Linked DNA regions of Homo sapiens: region 2 is linked to region 1. The links come from fine-mapping of genetic effects on gene expression. Tissue or cell type: prefrontal cortex. Region 1 holds a variant in brackets; the other region holds the start of a gene. All regions are shown on one strand. Distances are from middle to middle.

Evidence for each region.
Region 2: RAB3B starts here. The variant in region 1 is fine-mapped to the expression of RAB3B in prefrontal cortex (ROSMAP, PIP 0.95).

What each region holds. Positions count from the first base shown.
Region 1 is chr1:51,913,633-51,926,011 of GRCh38, forward strand. It overlaps RAB3B (RAB3B, member RAS oncogene family), which reads right to left. Exons shown (of 5, transcript NM_002867.4): 5 at 1-6,482. The coding sequence ends at 6,295. Among named protein-coding and RNA genes, the nearest start is that of NRDC, 41 kb to the left of the region's middle. The variant CTTTTTTTTTTTTT/C (reference allele first, on the strand shown) is at 5,339.
Region 2 is chr1:51,983,988-51,996,366 of GRCh38, forward strand. It overlaps RAB3B (RAB3B, member RAS oncogene family), which reads right to left and starts at 6,713. Exons shown (of 5, transcript NM_002867.4): 1 at 6,565-6,713. It also overlaps the pseudogene RN7SL290P. RefSeq lists a silencer at 6,627-6,736.

The DNA of each region.
Region 1 (12,379 bases):
AGCTAATTTTTGTATTTTTAGTAGAGATGGGTTTTCACCATGTTGGCCAGGCTGGTCTGGAACTCCTGACCTCAAATGATCCGCATGCCTTGGCCTCCCAAAGTGCTGGGATTACAGACATGAGCCACTGAGCCAAGCCCTATTTCTCCATTTCTTAAAACTGGACTTGGCCATGGAACTTGTGTTCATCAGTGAGACATTGGCAAATGTGATGGAAACAGAGCTTGAAAAGTGCTTCTGTGTTGGATCTTGCCCTCTCTTGCTTCGAGGAAACTCCTGCTACCATATGGACAAATCTGGGCAGCCTTCTGGAGGATGACACCACAGGGAGAAAGGCCTCAACAGCCCCAGTCATCTCAGCTGGGACCCCAGACATGTGGATGTAGCTATCCTAGACCATCCTGCCTCAGCCAGAAGAACCACCCAGCCAACCCACAGAATCATAAGAAATGATACATGTTTGTTGTTTTAAGCCTGTAAGTTTTGGAGTGGTTGGTTACGTCCTTCAGAAAACAACAATGAACTCCTAGCCAGGCAGTCTAACAATGTTTCACAGGTAGAGATATTCTTTCTCCTATCCTCAGTCTTCTTGGGGCATTTGTATTTGATCAGTCATCAAAGGTTAGTACTAAAAGGTGAAAGCTTAGTTGAGGAATGTAAAGCAATGGCCAGTGGGTAGCAGAGATATTTGGGAGCAGTAGACTCTTCCAAGAGCCCCTGAAACAGTTTCTCAAAGGTGATTCCGGTTTCCCAGTTGAGTGTTCTCACAGCATCACGTGCCTTTCCTTTAGAGTACTTTGTAATTATATTTGGGTGATGATTTGACAATGTCTATACTAAATCATGAAGCTATACGTTTCATGAAAGCAAGAACTGTGTCTAATTTGCCACTACTTGTATCCTGGCACATAATATATATTCATTTGTTGAGAAAATAAATGAATAAATAAATTTGAATTTTGTCTACTTCATATAATGGATCAGGACCTTAAAAAACCATCATTTAACAGTATTTATATCTCACGGACTAGTGTTTTGCATTTACTTCCAGCCACAGGATGCTACTTGATTCCCCAACTATGGCAGGTAATTGGGTGTAGGCTTGGGGCAGGGAATCTGAAATCAATGAGATCCCAGGACACTGGTTATTGTAGTTCTTTCCCCTTCCCCTAAACTGTTGGCAAACAAAGTCAAACAAACATTCCTCAGGATACTCCAGAAAACTCGATATCCAAGCAAGGAGCTTAGTGGCCGGCAGGAGCAGGTGATATGAGTTGGGGAGTCAGGTCTGGAGAATGGTCTTATTCTGTGGATGTTATAAGGCTTCGGTCACCAAGCAATTGTGGCTATTTAATTAACTGAGGTTATTTAACTCTAAGAATCCTTGGGAGCCTGGTACTACCAGAGGGTATATCCCATCTACCCTTCTGCTAAGACAATCTGAAGAAAAAAATTTGAAAGAGCATGAGTCAGACAGAGGAGGGTTCAAATGATGCTAGTGGGTGACTTGAGCATGTTAACTTTTCCAGGGCTGTTTCCTTGACTGCCAAATTGGGATAATAATATTTTAGAAACAGCATCTCCATTAGATCATAGGACCTTGCAGGCAGGGATCATTTTTTTTTTCATCTGTATTTATCTAGTGCTTAATAATGCTAGGCCCTAGTCGATAGTCAAATAGCTAAGTGTCTTCTTAGAGGTGATCCAGGACCTAGTCCTGGCTCCATCACTGTGATACTCTCAGAATAATTAGGAGATTTCCTTCCATTCTTTGGATGTCAACCTTCCCTTCTATAAAATAGGAGCCTGGAACAGATCTTCTCTAAGCTCCTTTCCAGATCTGATAATCGATGAGTCTGTGACCATTCAGTACACTCTACTCCACTGCTGCTCCTAGAAGTTAATAATGCTATAGACTGAGGAGACAATGAGTCACGAATCACTTTGTATTTACAGATACACATGCATTTAAAATAGATGTAAATAAACACAATACTGTATTGCACTTTTGGCCACTTTTGCGTCTTTAGAAGTCAAGAGGTGTTTTTTGTTGTTGTTGTTTGTTTGCTTGTTTTGTTTTGAGATGGAGTCTCGCTCTGTCACCCAGGCTGAAGTGCAGTGGCACGATCTCGGCTCACTGCAACCTCTGCCTCCCAGGTTCAAGCGATTCTCTGCCTCAGCCTCCTGAGTAGGGATTTCAGGTGCCCACCACCACGCCTGGCTAATTTTTGTATTTTTAGTAGAGATGGGGGTTTCACCATGTTGCCCAGGCTGGTCTTGAACTCCTGACCTCAGGTGATCTGCCCACCTCGGCCTCCCAAAGTGCTGGGATTACAGGCATGAGCTGCTGCGCCCAGCCAGAAGTCAAGAGTTTTTAAATATTTTATTTGGATTGTTGAGGAAGATTAAATCCAGGACAAGTTGCCACTAACACATATTACACAGCTTGAACCTTGGTGGCTAATTGCGCTATTACTGTGATTGATGAACACTATGCTGCAATCAGCTGGAAGCTGCTGCCTTTCATTTGACAGAAATGAGGTCACAGAGCAGGGCTGGGGAGCTGCCATCTCACAAGCAGGTCTGGTTGTCTGTTGCCCAGTAGACAAGCTTGCCACTATAACATTTAACTCTTGATTCCATCTATTGTGAAGATGCTTGTTCCCTTGAACTGGCTCCTGAGTTTTACAGAATTTGACAGTTTTAAAGAAAACGATTTCATCTTTGCCTGGATATTCAGTAGGAGAGAAAAGATTATTGGATATAGATACTAAAATATCCAGGCGTCATGAGGACCTTGGTCTGAAATCCTAGTACTAGAGTAGGTGAGTGTTAATGACCAGAAAAAAATAGTAATTATCCATGACACTGTATACAATGTTACAGTGTAAAAATCACACCCAGAACCACTGCCCTCTGAAGCAACTGTATTATACCCATGGTCAGAAAAGTTAATCAAGTCACTCTTCACAAATGCCCCATTGCTGGAGCATAGAGGCTGTTCAAAGTGGAGCATGGAGGCTCCTGCTGATTGGGAGCCTGATAAGTGTTGCCTGGCAGAGGCAGATACAGGGAAAGCCAGCACTTGGGACTGGGAAGCACTGGGCATTTTCTACCCAGGCCCATGGGATCTGTTGCCTCAGAGACTGACTCGCCTTTCCTGAGCATTAGACATCCATCACCTGGGATTAGTCTGAGTAGTTGAGCAATTTGTTAACAGATTAGAGATATACATCTTTTCTCCAGTGGACTTGGAATCTGATGGCCCTGGAATTGAATCCTAATGTGGCTTTAACACTCTCTTGGTATGTGATCCAAGTCTCGTAATCTCTCTGGATCATAGTTTGTCTATAAAAGATGCAGCCCAGAATGTGGTTAAGAGCACAGACCTTGGAGCCTACTGCCTGGATGTGAACTCCAGCTCTACCACTTACTTATTATGTGACTTTAGAGGTCCAGCTAGAACCTCTTTGTACCTTTGTTTCCTCATCTTCAAATGAGGCTCACTATAGTGCCTCCCTCACAAGATGTTGGGAAGATAAATGAGTTAATGCACGTAAAATGCTTGGAACAATGTCTAGTACAGAGTAAGCATGACATCAGAGTTGGCCGAGACAACTCTTGGATGCCAATCCTGATCTCTCAGGTTTGTTTGGTGGATCAACTGAAATGGTGAAGGTGAAAAAAAAGAGACACCGAGTTATTAGTGCCAAAAGAGACCTTAAAGATCATCCAAATAAGCTCCCTCATTTTATAAGTAGGAAATCAAGACTCAAAAGTGGAAAGTAACTGGCCCAGAGTCACAGTTGATTTAATGACAGAGTCCGGGTCTCCTGATTCCAAGTCCAAAGCTCTGCTCTCTGCATTGCATCAAAGAAAGCAACATCTTTGTAGAGCTGACTCCTTTAAAAAAAAAAAGAGAGAAAGAGAGACAGAGAGACAGGGTCTTATTCTTACTCTGTCACCCAGACTGGAATGCAGTGGCATAATTACAGCTCACTGCAACCTCAAATTCTTGGGCTCAAGCAATCCTCCTGCCTCAGCCTCCCAAGTAGCTGGGACTACAGGCATGCACCATCACATCTGGCTAATTTTTTTTTTTGTAGGGATAGAATTTGACCACATTGCCCAGGCTGGTCTCAAACTCCTGGCCTCAAGTGTTCCTCCTGCCTTGGCTTTCCAAAGTGCTGGGATTACAGGTGTGAGCCACAGCTGGATGGTCCTTTTATTTAGTCATTGGACTGGTTGCTAGTTAATTACTTTTCTAGGACAATGAGCCTCATTTGAAATGAAAAGAAAACTGGCGAGAGACTCCTCCTGCCCGCTGACTTTTGAGGTGGCTGAGGATTCAGGCCATGATAGAGAAGAAAGGTTTTCTGGAATCACTGCCAGTTCCATGTCATTATTTCAGCCAAAACAAAATATGTCCCTGTGGCCAAGCAAGCTAGAATAATGAGCTAATTTATTCTGGTCTCTGAGTTTCTTTTATTTTTTTCCTCAGGTATTTAATTAAGGGGCTTCCACCAGAAGTGGTTTCCCACACTCTCTGGTAGAAACTAAGGTTTCACTCCCAGGAGAAAGGGGTTGGGATCGGGATCTCTGAGTTCAATTTTCTCAATTTTTTCAGAGTCATGCCACCTTAAGATTTATTTTGCTTTGAATCATACTTCTCAGTTAGACTGCTCAAGAGCAGTTAAAAGATGGATTGGAGGAAAAGGGCAGGATAGGGAGAAGACCCTATGAAGAACAGCAGATGGAATTATAGAGGTATTTGACCTAGAGAAAAGGCAAGTCCCAGGAGTCATGATTCCTGTTCTCAAATAGTCTGAAGACGTCACAGGGCAGAGGGAGCACAGACTGTGAAGTCTCTGACAGCAGAGCTGGTACCAACAGGGAGGGAAGAAGAAGAAGAATTTCCAGGAGGCAGATTTGAGCTCGATACAAGGAAAACTTTCTATGAGAGTTGACAAAGATGGTGTGGAAAATGAGCTCCTGTCCCTGCCTAGAAGGTGTGCTTTAAAAGAAAGAGATTTGATTGTTAGGCTTGACAGTCACTTGTCAGAAAAAGGAAGGTTAGAACTGACTAGTCAGACTAGGTAAATTTGGGCATCCCGTCAAATCTAAAATCCTCAGGTTCTAGGAGTCTAAGAACTAATAACCAATTTCACTAAGTTCCCACAGTTAAGAACCAACTGGAAAGCAGCAAAATCAGAAACTCATGATCTGTTTCTTGATCTTGCCTGTTTCTCTTTTTCTCTGTTTGTCTTTCTTGAGCATACCTACTTGCTCTTTCATATAGCAGGAACCTCTGACATTTTGTAGGGGATAATCCTTTTCT[CTTTTTTTTTTTTT/C]TTTTTTTTTTGAGACGGAGTCTCGCTCTGTCGCCCAGGCCGGACTGCGGACTGCAGTGGCGCAATCTCGGCTCACTGCAAGCTCCGCTTCCCGGGTTCACGCCATTCTCCTGCCTCAGCCTCCCGAGTAGCTGGGACTACAGGCGCCCGCCACCGCGCCCGGCTAATTTTTTGTATTTTTAGTAGAGACGGGGTTTCACCTTGTTAGCCAGGATGGTCTCGATCTCCTGACCTCATGATCCACCCGCCTCGGCCTCCCAAAGTGCTGGGATTACAGGCGTGAGCCACCGCGCCCGGCCAATCCTTTTCTCTTAAGTGTGTTTCTGACTCAGCCTTTGCTCCTTCAGCATCATTAGAGAGTCTGAGCTCTCTGAAGATTAGCTCTTCCTGTCGCCACAGCAACTGCCCAGGCCCTGTGGGCATCCGTGGTAACAGGCGCAGGGCTTTGAGAGCCCAAGCTTGACTTGTAGTGAGAGAAAGCCCCGCAGGGAGCCCGATAGGAAACAAGCACGTTGTGCTTTGAGAAGTTGTCTTTAACAGGATTAGCTATGCAGGCGAGCCTCACTTTACGCAATTGGCATGCCCCTGAAGAATGTGTGCGTGTCAAATTTTGGTAAATGGAGGAACTCTCATTTTAAAGGCAGAAAAGAGACTGTTCTCTAAGTCCCTGTAGTGAATCCCCTTCGTAAAACAGAGTCTTCTTTTGTAAAGTGATTCTGCACCCGTGTAGTGACCTGTTATGTTAGTCTAGTGCTGAGTATCTATTACTGGGACCATCTGCAGAGAACCCCAGGGGCAGGCAAAGAATAGCAGCAACTCATCTTGCTCTGAGTGTGGGCAGTGTGTAACAGGGAGAGTGGGCTGAGAGCGGACAGTGTGTAACAGGGAGAAGCAGACTGGGTGTGGGGCCACAATGAGGGGAGGTCAGGAAGGTGGGCCTTGCCTAGCATGAGCAGTTCTGCTGCAGCAGCGGTGGGGTGTCCGAGAGACGCGTGTTCTTGGAGGAGCCCAGCATCGACGGGTCTGTGTCCAGCGAATCAGACATCTTGTCACAAATGGCATCCACCAGGCGCTCAAAGGCCTGCCTTACACTGATGTTCTCCTTTGCACTGGCTTCAAAGAAATCAAACCCTGGAAAGAGGAGAGATACAGATAAGGACTTTTCCCATCCCTTCTGCTGGAACCCTTCTGTGCCCTCAGCCCAAGCACTCTGGATTAATATGTCCAGTGCTCAGCAGTGAAGCAAAGAGGCTAAATTCCACGGACATGGGATTCTGCTTCAAGGAGACGGTACAGGGCAGGAGTTTCCTGCACTGGTCTTTCAGTCAGACTGATCCTAGCTCTACCACCGCCCAGCTGTTTAATTCCGGGCTGAGTCATTTATTCTCTTTACAAATCAATTTCCTGGTTTGTAAAAAGGGATAATTTTACCTACTTCATAGAATTATTTCAAGGATCAGGCAAGACAATGTATGTGAAATATATAACCCTGTGCCTGACACAGAGGGGGTCATTAGTGTTTGCTGACAGAGCAAATGCATAAACGTGTGTCCACAGCACCTTACAGTTTCCAAAGCACTTATCACATAGATTATTTTATTTGATCTTCATGTTGCCCCTGAGGAAGGAGTCTCAGTCAGATCCTCTCCACTTCACTAATACAAACACTGGCTTACAGAAGTAAGCTAGCTTGCCCAAGATAAGGAAAAGCACCAGTATGAGAAGCCCAGGTTTTGGACTTTTTCGCAGGGATTTTCCTCCTCTTTCCCCTGCCTCTCATTCCCCCTAGGCTGGCCAGCTCTAGTCTGGGCTCTAGGAGGCACCTCAAGATTCACACTGAATAAGTCTTCTTTGCCCTTTCCACCCATAGCCACACTGGTTTATTTCCACTCAGTGGGGTTCCTCCTCCCTGAATTCCACTAAAACGATCCAATAGATCTCACCCTCCCTCCACAAACCCAACAAAAGGCCCAGGGAAAACTACATCTCAGGTATGCAACATTCTTGTCTATTTTGTATCTTGAGACCCTTAGCGTCACTTTCTGTGATGAAAAGAACTTGGTTGTCCCAAGAGACACAGCAAAGGCCCTCCTGATTCCAAAAGGCTGCTTTCCACCCAAGGAATCTTGGTCAGCTTGGTGGCAGCCCTTAGAAGCAAAAGTGGCCCTCTCCATCAGTCCCCAGCCCTCTCCCACTTCTGTTGTCTGTCTGCTTTCCTCTTTCCCTTCTTTTGGAGCCTTTCCCCTGTGTCCCTTGCATTTTCTCCTTGGGATTCCTAATATCTTTGGGGCAACTACTACATGCCAGACACTATGCTAGGAGCTTTACTGATATCATCTTCTTTAATCCTCACAATAACCAGTTGGGTAAATAACATCATCTCCAATTTATAAATGAGAATATGAGAGACTGCATAACTCACACAAAGTCATGTGGCTGTATTAGCGGAAACTGGATTTAGACCTGGGTTTGGCTGTCTCCAAAGTCCACACACAGCTCTGCCTCTCATTTCTTCCCCCTTTTCTCTTTCACTTTGCATTTTTTTTTCCTGATTATACCTTTTTCTTCCTTTACAAGTCTCTTTGGCCTCCTCTGCTTTAATCCGACTAACAGTATCTGAGTCTGGGCAAGTCACTTCACCTCTCTGCTCACTTAACCTCTCCAATTCTCAGACTCCCTGTTGTCAAATAAGACAAACAACAGTGTCTTCCTACCAAGAACAGGTGGGAGGAGTGTGTGAGATGATGAATACATTGCTGTAAAAAAGTGGCCTGTTATAAAGACAGTTTCCTTCTGTTCTTTCAACTTGTTCCTCCCACCTCCTCTCCATCTTTCTAACATCCTCTTTTATCATCTTCTCTAACAAAGGAGGGATCTCTTTCCCCCCTCCCTCTTTCTCCCTATTATTCCACCATCCATAGAGAGGGCTGAAGCCCCCCAGGTATAAACAAGGCCTCTCTTTTCCCAGCCTTTTGGCTGGAAGGCACATGCCATTCCTGCCAGCCCACCTCCAGCTGACAGCCTCTCCTGTGGCCCATCTCCTGACCTGAGAAAGACAAGCAGCAGAAGTGCCTGCTAATTGTGGACATGTGATGAAGAAGGAGGCAGCTGCTGGCTCATTATACTCAGGCCATAGAAACCCAGTCAGCTTCAGAGACCCTCCAGCATATCGTTTTTCCTTAATGAACGTCACAAAAATGGACTCCCCAGTCTTTGACTGCCTTATCACAAGTGGCAGTGTTTGGGGAGGTGCGGGGAGTGTATTGTTTATTTGGGAAAGAGGCAGACCAGTAAGTAAGTAAATAGGTTTTCAGCTCAGATGAAGATGAGGACACAGTTCAAGGCCAGGGGCACAAATCCCTTGTGAGGAAGTGGCACTGAGGGGAGGACATGCCACATTGTACAGAGGGCAGCTACTAGCTGTGTGATCTTGGACAAGTTGCCTAATTGCTCCCAGTCTCTGTTTCCTCATCTATAGAATGAGGCGAATACTACCTACCCCATAGGATAGTAATGAAAATTAAATCCATGAAAGTATATGACATGATTGGCATGTGAATACATGGCAATTCTCTTTCCTATATGTTCCTGGCCCACCTTACTCCCAGCTTCCTTGCACCTCTACTGTCTCCAGGGCCTTTGGGGAAATCTCTTTGTCTTCATCACTTAGGGTCAATCAATAAGCCAGGTCTTTTTTTTTTTAATTTCATTTTTATTTATTTATTTTTTGAGAGACAGAGTCTTGCTCTGTCGCCCAGGCTGGAGTGCAGTGGCACAATCTCGGCTCACTGCAACCTCTGCCTCCCGGGTTCAAGCGATTTTCCTGCCTCAGCCTCCTGAGTAGCTGGGATTACAGGTACCCACCACCACACCCGGCTAATTTTTGTATTTGTAGTAGAGACAGGGTTTCACCATGTTGGCCAGGCTAGTCTGGAACTCCCAACCTCAGGTGATCTGCCCGCCTCGGTCTCCCAAAGTGCTGGGATTACAGGCATGAGCCACAGTGACTGGCCCACCAAGTCTTTATTGAGCATTGACCTTGTGCCATGTCTTGTGTTGAGTGTTAGAGATACAGACACAGGGAGATCAATTATAGTTGTAGAAAAGACATGCTAATAAAGGCATCAGTCTCTCCCATCTGCAGTTCACATTAACAGTTCACAAATACGAAAACAACCATGTGAGTGGGGTGGGGCAAGGCAAGGGTTAGCACTTGTAATTTGCAGACAGGAAAACTGAGACTCAGAGATGGGCCAGGGGTCTATCCCTTATGCCTCCTTGTCTCACGCTCAGTTGGAACAGCAACAGAACAAGCTGTAACATTCTAACCCAGGTAGAGGAAACCAGAGGCCATGCAGGGATGCAGGAGAGGGAGAGGCTGGCAGGGAAGGAGAGGAGGAGGAAGCTTCTTGAAGTTAGTGAGGATGTGAGCCTTTAAAGTCAGAACTCAGGCTGGGTGCAGTGGCTCACGCCTGTAATCCCTGCAGTTTGGGAGGCCGAGGTGGGTGGATCACCTGAGGTCAGGAGTTAGAGACCAGCCTGGCCAACATGGTGAAACCCTGTCTCTACTAAAAATACAAAAATTAACCGGGTGTGGTGGCACTGCCTGTAATCCCAGCTACTCGGGAGGCTGAGGCAGAAGAATTGCTTGAACCTGGGAGGCAGATGTTGCAGTGAGCTGAGATTGCGCCACTGCACTCCTGCCTGGGCGACAGAGTGAGACTCTGTCTCAAAAAAAAAAAAAAAAAAGTCAGAACTGAGCAAAACTGGCTAGGTGCTAGTGGCTCAAGCCTGGAATCCCAGTACTTTGGGGGTGCCAAGGCAGGAAGGTTGCTTAAGGCCAGTTGTTCGAGACCATAAATAAATAAATGAATACACAAATAAATTACATTAAAAATAATTAAACAAAACTCTTCACCTAACTTCTTCTCATTCTTCAGGACTCAGCTTACATATGGTATCTTCATTCTCCTCTGTGCTTCCTCCTGCCATAGCACTTTTTACCCTGCATGGCAGAAGTCCATATAGACAGGGAGCTCCCCAAACAGGAACTATGTCATTCTGAGCCCCAGCACCACCTGGAAGAGTAGGTGCTTAGTGAATGTTGGTGGAATGAATAGTTGAATTAAGGAGGTGGGAATGAGCAAGGAGGGTGTGGTTGAGGGGATACGGATAGTGTGGGTCATGAAAGCTCAGCTCAATGAGCACGGTGCTGGGCATTGGGGACAGCAAGGTGAATCAGACACAGCCCTTACCTTTGAGGAGCCCCTAGTGTGTTATGGAAGATAGACACATTGACAATATTACAGGGCAATAAGTGTTGGAATGGAGGGAAGCCAGGGGATTGTCAGGGCACAGAGAAAGCATCTAACCAAGCCTGGAGACCAGGGACGGTTTCTTGGAGAAGCTGATGCTTAAGCAGATATCAGCTAGACAAAGACATGTCACTGTGAGTGTATGTGTGAGCACAGGCATGTCTAGCATAGCACAACAGGCAGGGGAGACAGCATGAATAGAGCACAGATAAGGGGGCAAAATCAGCCTTGGTCTATGCCAAAAGGGCCATAGCAGTTTGTTATCCTTAGAGCAGAAAACCCTAAGTGGTGAGAGTTGAGTCAGCAGGGGGCCAAACAGGGGGAGCTCTTGTGTCATGCCAAAGAGATGTCTTTACTGTCATCTCAAAGGTACCCGGAATGTGAGAACTGTGACTCAAGTTACCAACTCATGGGTCTAGCCAGCTCAAGGGCCTCTCTTGCTTAGCAGAATAACCCCAAATGCACCCCACCCAATTACTGTCAGATTCCTGAAATATTCTTCATTAGTAGGTCCATATGGTAACCTTTTCTTCAGGTTCATTAATAAGGACTTTTAGGAGCTGAGAATCTAGTGAGGCCAGGAAGATGACAACCAATTATCCAGACTAGCCCCCAGTCCTTTTCTTCTCCTAATTGGCTTCAGAACAATGACATTTCTGCTGTTTTTAATGGGGCTCAATTCTTAACTGAATCTGAGATGTTCCTCCACCCCCCAAAAATGATCACGTTTATCTACTCTGTCCAAAGGCAGCTGTCACAGACCCATAGACTGCATCCACACTGCCTGCTTCTGAATACGACCTCAGAATTCTATTCAGAAACTTGCAACCAGCTAAACTCACCTCTCCTCATCCCAACACTGCTCCAGAACATGTCTCCTCCACGGTTCAGATCCCTTCTCCATCCTGCTCTGACACCACCTCATCTCTGTCATTTATCAACCTTCAACTCACATCCTCTGGTCACTGATGATTTGGGCTCAGTGGGACTCACTGTCTTCCTTTCTACTCAAGGCTTGTTTTCATTCTCTGGAACTTTGAGTGTCATGTGGACAATCCATCCGGCACCTTGGATGGACCTTCTCTTCCATTTTGCTTCAGCTATTCACCTGTCCCTATAACTTGAGCTATTTTGACTTGGATTTGTGTCACTGGAATTGAAAGAGGTCTGATCAATTCAATATCCAGCCTCACTGGCTGAACACCCAAGACCTGGCATGGCCTGGTCTCTACTCCCCCAGCTTCATCTTCCTGGCTCACACTATGCTCCAGAAACATCAGTGCTTCCTGATTTTGTGCCATTGCTCATGTTATTAATCTCTAGCTACTACTCCTAATCATCTTCATTATTCATCTGTGGAATTACTGATCCCAGAGAAGCTTCACTTTTTCTTCCCCACAACACCTCTACCACTCAGAACATATAATGTCTCTCTCCCCTGTACTCTCATGGCACTTTGTGTGATTGTTTCAGTCAGATTCCAACCAGAAAAATGGGAACTATTCTTTAAACCAGAAGGAATTGCTTATATAGGTGATGGAAGAACTAAGAAGCTAAACAGAATATTGAGGAAACCCAGAGATTATCAAAAGCAAAAAATACTAGTATTAGAGCTAAAAGATGCTGGAACCATGAGAGCAGGAGTCACAGTAGAGGAGCAGCCCCTGCTGGGGGGCCAGCTGAGGCAGGGGGAAAATACCTGGATTTCTCCCT
Region 2 (12,379 bases), 70 kb after region 1:
GGCGCGGTGGCTCATGCCTGTAATCCCAGCACTTTGGGAGGCTGAGGCGGGTGAATCACGAGGTCAGGAGTTCGAGACCAGTCTGGCCAACATGGTGAAACCCCATCTCTACTAAAAATACAAAAAATTCGCTGGGCGTGGTGGTGGCTGCCTGTAATCCCAGCTACTCTGGAGGCTGAGGCAGGAGAATCACTTGAACCTGGCAGGCGGAGGTTACAGTGAGCGGAGATTGTGCCACTGCACTCCAGCCCAGGCAACAGTGGAGACTCTCTAATTAAAAAAAAAAAAAAAAAAAAAAAAAAAAAAAAAAGCATGAACGAGACTTTGAAAACTCTAAAAAAACATCATTTCAGTTGACTACATTATATTCCATCCTATAGATGTGTCATAAGACCAATTCTTTTTTTTTTTTTTTTTTTTTGAGACAGAGTCTTGCTCTGTCACCCTGGCTGGAGTGCAATGGCACAATCTTGGCTCACTGCAACCTCCAACTCCTGGGTTCAAGCGATTCTCCTGCCTCAGCCTCCCAAGTAGCTGGGACTACAGGTGCTCACCATCACACCGGCTAATTTTTGTATTTTTAATAGAGATGGGGTTTCACCATGTTGGCCCAGCCAGATCAATTATTTAATGTTGTCACTCTCTTTAGGAAGTTGTTTTTAAGTTGTTTTTCTACTCTTAATTATTATACATGAAACTGCAGTGAACATTTCTTTACATAAATTTTTGTACATTTTCCTAATTACTTCCTTGAGAGAGATTCCTTGAAGTGGAATTGCTGGTCAAAGAGTCACTACTAAAACATAAATGTGATCTTTACCACAATTTCATATCCTTTATCTTCTTTTATCTCTAAATAAACCTGGGAAATAAAGCTGGAAAGACGTGGATTATTATTTCCATTTGATCAAGAAGGAAACTGAAAATGAGAAATTAAAAGGATTTGCCCAAATCTCATAGCTAACAGCCGAGACTAGACTTAGTACCCTGCAGTGTTATGAAAAAGTTTAAAATCAATGCTCTACCCTCAGATGAATTCTTAGGTAAGTCATATTGCCTCTCTAAGCCACAGCACTTTTACCTTAAAATAGAGAAAATACCACCTACTTCACAGAGCTTGGTACAAATAGAAAGAGTAGTACTATACGTAAACAATCTGACACAGTTTCTCGGCCCATGGAGGTACTGAATACATATTATTTCACTGGCCCCTTTAATTCACTTCTGCAGGCAAATCTTGTTCAACTGCCCTCTCCCTGATTGTGGCTCCATTATTTGGGCCTGTTTTACAATTAACTGTTTGCTCTCTCTTCTGGATTCAAGGGGGCTTTATCCATCCTTACATCTGGTCAACGCTAGACCTACAGTAAATCCTTAGAGGGTGTTATGTCTTTCAAGAAACACATATAGAGCATTTTTCAAGTGCCAGACTATCAGTGTAAATGTCAGATTACTGGTTTTCACTTTTCTGATGTAGCCCAGCTTCACACTCTTAAACTGCTAGAATTAGAGGGGACTTTGGAGTAGCAGCTTTTTATTGTAACAAAAAGCCTGGCTACTGGGCCCAGCTTTCCCAGTAACTCAGTGTGTAAACTTGGCCTAGTTACTTAAATTCTATGCCTCAGTGTCCTCATCTGACAATAATACTTACTTCACGAGGTGCTGTGAATTTTAAATAAGAGAACGTATATAAGTATGTTTCATACACTGTGCTGAGAAAAATACATGTAGCCTCGTGTAGAATCAGTGAGAAATTTGCCTGCCTTTATTAGCTGTGACTGCCACAGATAGGAGACTAGGAAGTGATGGCAAGAGTAAAAAATTGTTTCAGTTCCTGATCTACCTCCGTTTATCTTACAGGTAAAAAAAAAAAAAAAAAATTGAGGCTCTGCAAAGACAAGTGATTTGTCCAAGCTCACACAGCAAGTCAGTTGGAGGGTCATGAATGGAACTTCTGTTACCTAATGGCTTCCAGGTTTGACGGGATTAAGGAAAACGAAAACCACAACAATTTTAGGGTGAATAAAGAAGCATCCTGGCTGGGCATGGTGGCTCATGCCTGTAATCCCAACACTTTGGGATGCCAAAATGGGAAAATCACTTGAGGCCAGGAGTTCAAAACCAGCCTGGGAAACATAGTGAGATTCCATTTCTACGAATTTTTTTTTTTTTTTTTTTTTTGAGGCAGAGTCTCACTCTGTCGCCCAGGCTGGAGGGCAGTGGCGCGATCTCAGCTCACTGCAAGCTCCGCCTCCCGGGTTCACGCCATTCTCCTGCCTCAGCCTCCCGAGTAGCTGGGACTACAGACACCCGCCACCATACCCGGCTAATTTTTTGTATTTTTACTAGAGATGGGGTTTCACCGTGTTAGCCAGGATGGTCTCGGTCTCCTGACCTTGTGATCCGCCTGCCTCGGCCTCCCAAAGTGCTGGGATTACAGGCGTGAGCCACCGCGCCCAGCCAAAAAAAGTTTAAATTAGTCGGATGTGGTGGTGTGCACCTGTAGTCCTCGGTACTTGGGAGGCTGAGGCTGGAAAATCACTTGAGTCCAGAGGTTCGAGGTTAGAGTGAGCTATGATTGCACCACTGTATCCCAACCTGGGTGACAGAGTGAGACCCTATCTCTAAAAATAAAAATTAAAAAAAAGAAGCATACCCAACATCCTGAGTGTCCTGCTACCGTACTGTACTTGCCATACCACACTGTTAACATCTGCTTATGCACACACAGCATGGCTTTCCCAGTAGGTGGTGTGAGAACGGGGAGAGGCAGAGAGCTGAGTTCAGTTGGAAGGCTCATTCAGATGGAAGCCCCCAAGGGGATCTTCTTAGGAGGGGGCGGCCAGGGGCTACTCAGACATTTGGAAGACAGGCAAAAAGCATCCCAGCAGGCAGCTGCCTGAGGCAGATCTAAGCAGACAGGTCATGCACAGTGGTGCATGCAGAATTGCATTTGTAAGATAAGCATCAATCAAATCTTTCCTCTATTTTGTGACAGTCACATAAAATGATAGAGCTATCTCCGTGACAAGCAATACAGATGAAGGCCCAGGGACCATCTGGGAAGTCGTCCCTGTCCCAGGCTGGGGGAAAGAAATGACTCCTCAAAGGGTGGCTGTGAAAAACAACCCTTTCAGTCTGATAGGCGGCAGAAATAAGCACCTAAGGAAGAAGCCAACTTCAGCCAGGAAAGAGCGGGGAGGAGGAGGAGAGAGCCCTAAAATCCAGCGAGAAGAGATCAGCTCAATAAATGGAGTGAAGAAGTGAATGAAGGAACTTACCTTTTGTTGCAAAGAACATGAGACTGAGTCCAAGAGACCTGGCATTTGAAAGATAAGCCCTGGCTCTTTCAGTGATCCTGTAAACTTAGGCAAATCACACCCCTGGCCTCAGTTTCCTTATCTATAAAAGGAGCTCATAAAATGGCTTCCTGGCAAAACTGTTGCAAGAATTAAAACCTGTATATGGGAGGGTGTTTTATTAACCCCTTATTTTGTTTGTTTGTTTGTCTCTGTGCTTCATGGTTTCTTCTAGCAAGTCATCCTGTGTAGTGGAAATAGTTTGGAGCTCCAAATCAAACAAACTAGATTCAGTTTCCAGGTCTATCATTTATTACCTATGAGACCTTGGCAAGAAATGTTACATGATTAAGACAGTTTCCTCATTCATAAAACAAGTGTTGTTGGGAAAATTATAGGTAATGTGGGTTATACATCTAGAATAGTACAGTAATTTCTTGGTATAGGCAAGGGATTGGCTCCAGGACCCCCATATATACCGAAATCCACGCCTACTCAAGAACCACAGTTGGCCCAGTGGAACCCACCTAGACTAAAAGTTGGTCCTCTGAATATACAGACTTCACCTCCCTTCACTACTGTATTTTCTTCTCTTTTTCTTCTTTTTTAAGAGATGGGTGTCACTCTGTTTCCCAGGATGGAGTACAGTGGCCTGATCATAACTCACTGTAGCTTCAGGTTCCTGGGCTCAAGCGATCCTCCTACCTCAGCCTCCCAAATAGCTGGGATTCCAGGTTTGAGCCACTGCGCTTGACCCACCATGGTATTTTTTTTAATCAGTGTTTGGTTGAAAAAAAAAATTCAGGTATAAGTGAACCTACACAGTTCAAACCCATGCTGTTCAAAGGTCAACTGTATATGCAATATAGCAGGGGCTCAATAATGTAATTCCCTGTCTTCCTACTTGGAGCATTTCAGTGAGAATAAGAAGGGAGTTGGGCAAATGTGGACCTCATCCTCCTTTAAGCCATACTCTACTTTTCTAATTCAATCTGTCTTTAGACCATTCCCCACTGCTGACCCATCACCACCTTCTCATTGTTTTCCCAGGTCTCCTAGAGCCACAGAAACAATATCACAATAGCTACCATTTATTGAGCACCTACTAAATGTCTAGCATTCTACAAGATGCTTTCAAAGCATTCCATCTTGCACCAACAGATGCTTGATATTCATTTCCTTCCTCCTCCAGATTGGAAAGAGATAGCCATGGGTGTGTCCACTGACAAAACAGGAACACCTGCAGAATAACATCAGTGGCCTCTCTCTTTGTACATTGTTTTACAGTTTACAAAGTTCTTTTCACCCACATTATCCTATTTGATTCTCACAACAATTCTTGGGAATGGATGAAGAAATTGAGGCAGGAGCACCAATTATTCATTCAATCAACATTCACCAAGCACCTACTATGCACCAGGACCTGTGCTATACTTTAGGGAGATGGAGAGAAACCCTAGGAGCTTCAAGCTTAGAGGGGAAATCTATTTAAATATTTTGTATAGGTTACTGATGCCTCCCTTCATGTCATAATCTTTAAGAAACTGAAGATCTATTTCTTGGACTGGAGATGCTTTTAGATTTTTGCCTTTTCCCATACGGTTTCCTCTGATAGGAACACACTTTCCTCCACTGCTAGCTAAATCCTTCATGACCAGGAAGGCTTCCCCAACCCACCCACCTCCCCCAAAATGCTTCTTCTCTGGCTCCCACAGGGCACCAGGGCTTTCCACTTCTATAGATAGGGCCTTTCACGGCTTCCATTGTCTTCCTCTGTTTATAGGCACAGAACAGGTGGACACCCACCTGTGCGCGCGCACACACACACACACACACACACACACACATCCTCTCCTTTTACTGTCTCCCACCCCTTTCCATCTGGATTCCAGGAAGCCGGGGGAAGAGGGCCCATCTTGTTTTGTGTGTGTGTGTGTGTGTGTGTGTGTGTGTGTGTGTGTGTGTGTGTGTTTTGAGGGCCCATCTTTCTCCCACCTCCTCCACATCTCTCTTAGCTTCCAAAGGCTGCTGCCCTGCCCTCCCCAAAGTTGCTTCCATGCTTGGACTACAGAACAGAGTTGGATGACTTTTTCTGTCCACGATTCTCTTATTTTCTGTGATCCCCGGTGCCCGTGTAACAAGGTCCAGTGCCTGGGTCCCCTCCTTGGACTCCTGAGTGGCCGAGACACCGCTAGTGCGTGGACACCACTCCAGCCCCCATTACCTTTCCACCCTTACACCACGACCCACACCTGGCCTCCTCCCCAGGCTGACCCAGCGCCCCACCACCCTATCTATACACTCCAAGTTCTCCCACGATTCCTCCACTTGCAGCCGCCAGACCCTACTCTATTCCAGAGCCTCCTCTCCACTCCTGACCAGAATGTAGGCCCCTGTGTCCATTTCCAAGGCCACTTCCCTGTGTCTCCACCGGCTCCCTGCCCCCTTCCTCTGCAGCAGGGTAGACCCAACCTGGCCTCTCACCCTTCCATTCTCCCAAGCTTCCCGCCCCCAAGCCCCACCCCTCGTCTTCCATCTACAGTTACCCCCACGCCGGTCCCCAGCCGGGCTCAACCTCCGACCCCAGCTATCCATACCCACATCCCCCATAAATGACCCTCTTTCGACCAGACACTGCCCTGCTGCCTTTCTCCTTCCCAGCTATCCATACCCACATCCCCACCCCCGACCCTCTCCCAACCAGACACTCCCCAGCTGCCCAGCGCCCCTTGCCCTCGGCACCTCAGTCCCCTCCAGCTCCAAACGACCCCCGCCCAGCCAGTCCCCTCCCCTCAGCTCCTCACCTCCATGCCTCCCCCCGCACCCCCGCTCTAGCTCCCCTCAGTCCGCTCCCTTCACCGCCCCCTTCGCTGCCCCTCGGCTGCCCGGTACCACCTTTCCGCACAGCCCCACTCCGCCCTCCTCGCAGCTCCCCCGCCCCCCACGCCCCCGTTTCCCCCAGCGATCCCTCACTGCCCTCCAGTTGCCCCCCATCTCTCCTCCCAGCCCCAGCGCCGTCTTTCTTGCTCCCCTCCCGCCCTTGGAGCTCCCCCGGCTGCCCCCAACGTCTGGGAGACCCCCTCGGCGCCCCCTCCCTAGGTGAGCCCCACCTCTGCCGCCGCGGAGCCCCCTCCCTCGCTCCTCCCCCGGCTTCCTTCCGCTGCCCCGCGCTCCTTCTCGGCGCCCGCTCTCGGTGCCCAGCGCCCCGCGCCGGGGATCGGTCCCTGATCCTCCGCGGGCGGGCTGCCGGGGCCGCGCCCCTTACCGCGGACTCCGAGTGCGGGACGACGGGTTCGCTCCCGGACGGTCGGCGGGACGGCAGGACCTGGCGTCGGGAGGGCGCGGAGGGGGCCGGGGCGGGGCGCTGCGGGATGGTCTGGTCCGGTCAGGTCCTCACAGTGGCGCCTGAGGGCTGAGGCTCCCGCTCCAGCACTGCTCCGCTCCGGCCGCATCCAGGCCCCGCCCAAGGGCGGAGTCTGTGTTCGCCCCGCCCCGGCCCTCAACTCCTAGCAGGTGTAATCCGAGGTGACTCAGGACCTCCAGGTCCCCCATGTCTGGGTGACTCTCGTGATTTATCTTAATTGTCATGCCTCGTTCCATTGACTGAACTTACTAGGGTAATTAGAGAGCTTTGATGATAATGTAGCTGATGATGGGTAGCAGTTTTGCCATTTCCAAACTGCTTTCTGGTCCGGTCCGTTCTATGGCTCCGTCTTCACAAAAGCCCAGAGAGGGAGGCTGACTACAAGCGGAAACCAAGCCAGAAACCTGGACGCTGTCCTCTACCCTATCTGTGTTTCCTTCACACCCCACATCCCACCGCCTTAACATATCCCTGCCCTTCCTCTGTGTCTCCATTGCCCTTGTTCTGACTCCAGCATCATCACTTCTTGCTTGGACTAATGCAACAGCTTCCTAATTCCTGCCTTCACTCTCCAATTCACCCTATAAAACCAGGACGTGGTGTCAGCATGGCCATTTCCACCCTTGTACAAAAATTCTTTCTCCTGTGGTCTCCAGTCATACCACCCTCCACCCCTCCTCATCACTGACACCCAATTGTTCCTTATGCATTAAAGATTGCAGCCCCTGGCCCATGGTCATCCTAACTAGCCCCTGTTCTGCCATACTCCTGGTGACTTCGGTAGCTGTGAGACTTCCTGGTCCCATTCATTCTGAGTCAGATACCAAAATCATTTTGACACAAGCCCGAGCAACCCTTTAAAAAATGTCACCATGTTACCATCAACCTTGTTTAAGAAAACTCTCGGCCAGGCACAGTGGCTGACGCCTGTAATCCCAGCACTTTGGAAGGCCAAAGTGGGCAGATCACTTGAGGTCAGGAGTTCGAGACCAACCTGGCCAACATGGTGAAACCCTGTCTCTACTAAAAATACAAAAATTAGCCGGGCATGGTGGTGCATGCCTGTAGTCCCAGCTACTTGGGAGGCTGAGGCAGAATTGCTTGCACCCAGGAGGCAGAGGTTGCAGTGAGCCGAGATCACTGCACTCCAGCAGTGCACTCCAGCCTGGGCAACAAAGCCAGACTCCATCAAAAACCAAACAAACAAACAAACAAAAACCTCTCAATGGTTTCCCATTACCAGGAGGCTGTCAACAGGAGTAGAAAAATGTTCTTGCCTGGCCTGGCCCTAGGAAGTCCCACTTCCACTAGAGGAGGCAGATAGAGGAGGCAATAAATACCCCACCCTCAAATCCTGATATGGACTTCCAGTCTTCCTGAGGTCACAGGAGCCAGCTGAAGGCTTGCTCTAGAATCATTGTCTTTCCCCACACTTCTCCCCCATCTCAGATCTTAGAGGTCTGAGTCAAATACCAAAACCATTTTCCCCCCAAGTTCCATTATGACCCTGTCTACAGTGTACATCTCCAGCCTAGGAACCACCCAAGCTGACAGCTCCTCTGCTTGTCTGGCCTCTGCCTCAGACGCTTACTCTTCTGAGCTTCTTGCCCAGCCCTTTCACTCACACTGCCCATCACACTGGCAGCTCTTTCCTCTGTGCCTTCTAGAATCCTGTTCTTTTGTCAACAAACTCTGCTATACCCTCTGCTTCTTCAGAGTACTCAGGTGACTTCTTTGCCTGAGCCTCCTCCAGGTACTGCCTCCTTTGCTGCCCTCTGCTAGAAGGCTTCTCATTTTTCCACTCCCCATATACTATAAAACTAGGATGTGGGGATGGCATGGCCATTTCCACCCTTGTGCAAAAATTCTTTCTTCTGTGCTCTCCAGCCATACCCCCCTCAACCCCTCCTCATCACTGACCCCCCAATTGCTCCTTATGCATTACAGATTGCAGCCCCTGGCTCATGGTCATCCTCACTAGCCCCTGTCCTGCCATCCTCCTGGTGACTTCAGTAGCTATGAGATTTCCTGGTCCCTCAGTCCTTGTCCTCCACATCACCTTGGCCACCAGCTCCCATGGTCACTCTTGAGCTCTTAATCACCCACTGCTGGTACCTCTGTAATAGCAAAATCAAACATGCTACGCTGAACTGCTCCCTCACTCTCTTTCTCTCACAAGGCCCTACTTCCCTCATTTCAAAATAGACGAGATGATAATGATTATTCTTTCTTCCTAGGAATAATGAGACAGCATATAGAGCCATCCTTTTAAAGTTGTGAGACAATATGAGAACAGATGGTATTGCTTTTATGTAGCCTCAGTTCTTCTGGTTGCTTTCTCCTTCTCCCTCCTCTGAAAGGCGGTATAGTAAATTAGAAAGGGCACACACAGGCTTGGGGCCAGGCAGACCTGGTCTTCAGTCCTTGCTTGCTGTGTGATCTTATGCCAATTACCTAATTTCTCTCGCACGCACACCCCTTCCTTATTTGTAGAAAGAGCAATAATAAGAGCTGCTTCTCAGAGTTGTTGGGAAGATCAAATGAGAACACAAGCTACTGGAGAGGACTTGATAGAGTGGTAGGCATACAGTAAGCATTCAACAAATAGGAAACACTGTGCTTCGTATAACAGAAAAAAAAAAGTGCTATTTTTAAACCACAACTGCCTTCCAGGAATGACAGATCCCAATGCACAGAAAGTCCTTTTGTCCTGCTTGGGGCCTCAATTGATGAGAGTGAATACGTAACTTTGGGAGAAGAAATTGCTCTCTATGTTTAAAAAGGGAGTAGGGGTAGGTGGGGCATGATGGCCCACGTCTGCAATCCCAGCACTTTGGGACCACCTGAGGCCAGGAGTTCGAGACCAGCCTGGCCAACATGGTAAAACTCTGTCTCCACTAAAAATACAAAAATTAGCCGGGCGTGGTGGTGGGCGCCTGTACTCCCACCTACTCGGGAGGCTGAGGCGGGAGAATCACTTGAACCTGGGAGGCGGAGGTTGCAGTGAGCCGAGATTGTGCTACTGCACTCCAGCATGGGCAACAGAGTGAGACTCCATCTAAACAAAATTAGGGGTAGCAGGAGGCAGAGGTTGCGATGAGCCGAGATTGCGCCGTTGCACTCCAGCCTGGGAAACAAGAGTGAAACTCCATCTCAAAAAAAAAAAAAAAAAAAAGGTGGGGGTGGGAGGGTTGGGGGAAGGCAAATTTGGAATTCACTTGACAAAATGGGAGGGCAAGTTAATAGAGATCGGAGGGGAAAAGGAAAAAGATGAGTAAGAAAATCAATGTAAGGATAGGTGCTACATAGGTAAAGAGTCAGAAGAAACTCTCCCATGGTAGTTGACAAGAGTGTTTCAGCAGTGGGATACCTAAAATGGGATAAGTTGTTTGTTACACTAGGACGTGACCATCCTATGTGACTCTCAAGACTTCAGGAAGGGCTATTACACCCAGGAACGCTTTTTGAGAGAGGGGAATTGTGAGAGTACATGAGTAGGGAGTTGAGCAATGTGCTTTGTTAGGTCTCAGTTGAAAAAGGAGACTGGAAGCAGAGGTAACTGTGAGACCACAAGCCCTTGTGGAACTTGCAAAAACTTGTGTAGGACTTTGCACTTACATGAGTTGGGAAATGTGAATATTGAGGTTCAAGCCCATTGCATTTGGATCTTGAAGAGGCAGAGAGGCAGCCAGACAGCGGCTCACACCTGTAATCCCAGCACTTTGGGAGGCCAAGGTCGGCAGATCACCTGAGGTGAGGAGTTCAAGACCAGCCTGGCCAACATTGTGAAACCCCATCTCTACTAAAAATACAAAAAAATTAGCCAGCATGGTGGCAGGTGACTGTAATCCCAGCTACTTGGGAGGCTGAGGCAGGAGAATCGCTTGAACCCGGGAGGCGGAGGTTGCAGTGAACCAAGATCGCACCACTGCACTCTTGCCTGGGTGACAGAGTCAGACTTGGTCTCAAATAAAAAAAAAAAAAAGCCGGGGGCGGTGGCTCATGCCTGTAATCCCAGCACTTTGGGAGGCCGAGGCGGGCGGATCACGAAGTCAGGAGATCAAGACCATCCTGGCTAACGTGGTGAAACCCTGTCTCTACTAAAAACACAAAAAATTAGCCGGGCGTCGTGGTGGGCGCCTTTAGTCCCAGGTACTCGGGAGGCTGAGGCAGGAGAATGGCGTGAACCCTGGAGGCGGAGCTTGCAGTGAGTTGAGATCGCGCCACTGCACTCCAGCCTCGGCGACAGAGCGAGACTCCATCTCAAAAAAAAAAAAAAAAAAAAAGGAGGCAGAGAGGCCACATCTGACATTTGGGTTGCATCATTTATGCCCTCATAAGCTACCTTCTTATTGACTAAGGTAACCACCTGAGGGAAGAACAACACAAATCAAATTATACTGGACTGTCTTCACTTCCAGATCCAAATGCCCAAGGAAGAATGGGAAGGAAAACAAAATTCTTTTTTTTTTTTTTTTGAGATAGAGTTTTGCTCTTGTTGCCCAGGCTGGAGTGCAATGGCGTGATCTTGGCTCACTGCAACCTACGCCTCCCGGGTTCAAATGATTTGGCTGCCTCAGCCTCCTGAGTTGCTGGGATTACAGGCATGTACCACCACGCCCAGCTAATTTTGTATTTTTAGTAGAGACGGGGTTTCTCCATGTTGGTCAGGCTGGTCTCAAACTCCTGACCTCAGGTGATCTGCCCCGCCTCAGCCTCCCAAAGTGCTGGAATTACAGGCATGAGCCACTGAACCTGGCCCCTGAATGAAGACAAAATTCTACCTTTTGTCTTGGCTCAGATTAGTTAACAATTATATTCATTGAATCTTTAAATTACACTAAGATTATTCACATCTTTTATCTCATTTAATCCTCAATATAATTATGCAAGTTATAGATTATCATCCCTTTTTTATAGACAAGGAAAGAGAATTGAGAAAGTTTAAGTGACTTGCCCAAGGTCATACAACTGGTAAGTGGCAGAGCCAGATAGCAGGTCTGTCTGACTCCAAGGACAGGGCGTTTTCTATTAGACTCTAAAATTATATTTTGATTGCCCAGTGAACATCATTGTGATTAAGAGTCCTGCAAGGGCAAGATGGCACCTGCCTGTAGTCCCAGCTACTCGGGAGGCTGAGGCAGGTGGATGATTTCAGCTCAGGAGTTCTGGGCTGTTATGTGTGTTATGCAGAACAGGTGTTCTCACTAAGTTCAGCATCAATATGGTGAATTCCCAGGAGTGTGGGGCTACCAGGTTGCCCAAGGAGGAGTGAACCAGCCAAGGTCAGAAACAGCAGGCCAGAACTTCTGTGCTGATCAGTAGTGGGATCATGCCTGTGAATAACCACTGTACTCCAGCTGGGGCAACATGGAGAGACCCTGTCTCTATATTTAAAAAATAAATAAATAGGCCAGGCACGGTAGCTCATGCCTGTAATCCCAGCACTTTGGGAGGCCGAGGCGGGCAGATCACCTGAGGTCAGGAGTTCGAGACCAGCCTGGCCAACATAGTGAAACCCCATCTCTACTAAAAATACAAAAAATTAGCTGGGCATGGTAGTGCACGCCTGTAGTCCCAGCTACTCGGGAGGCTGAAGCAAGAGAATCATTTGAACCTGGGAGGCAGAGATTGCAGTGAGCCAAGAGCATGCCACTGCATACCAGCCTGGGTGACAGAGAGAGACCCTGTCTCAAAAATAAATAAATAAATAAAT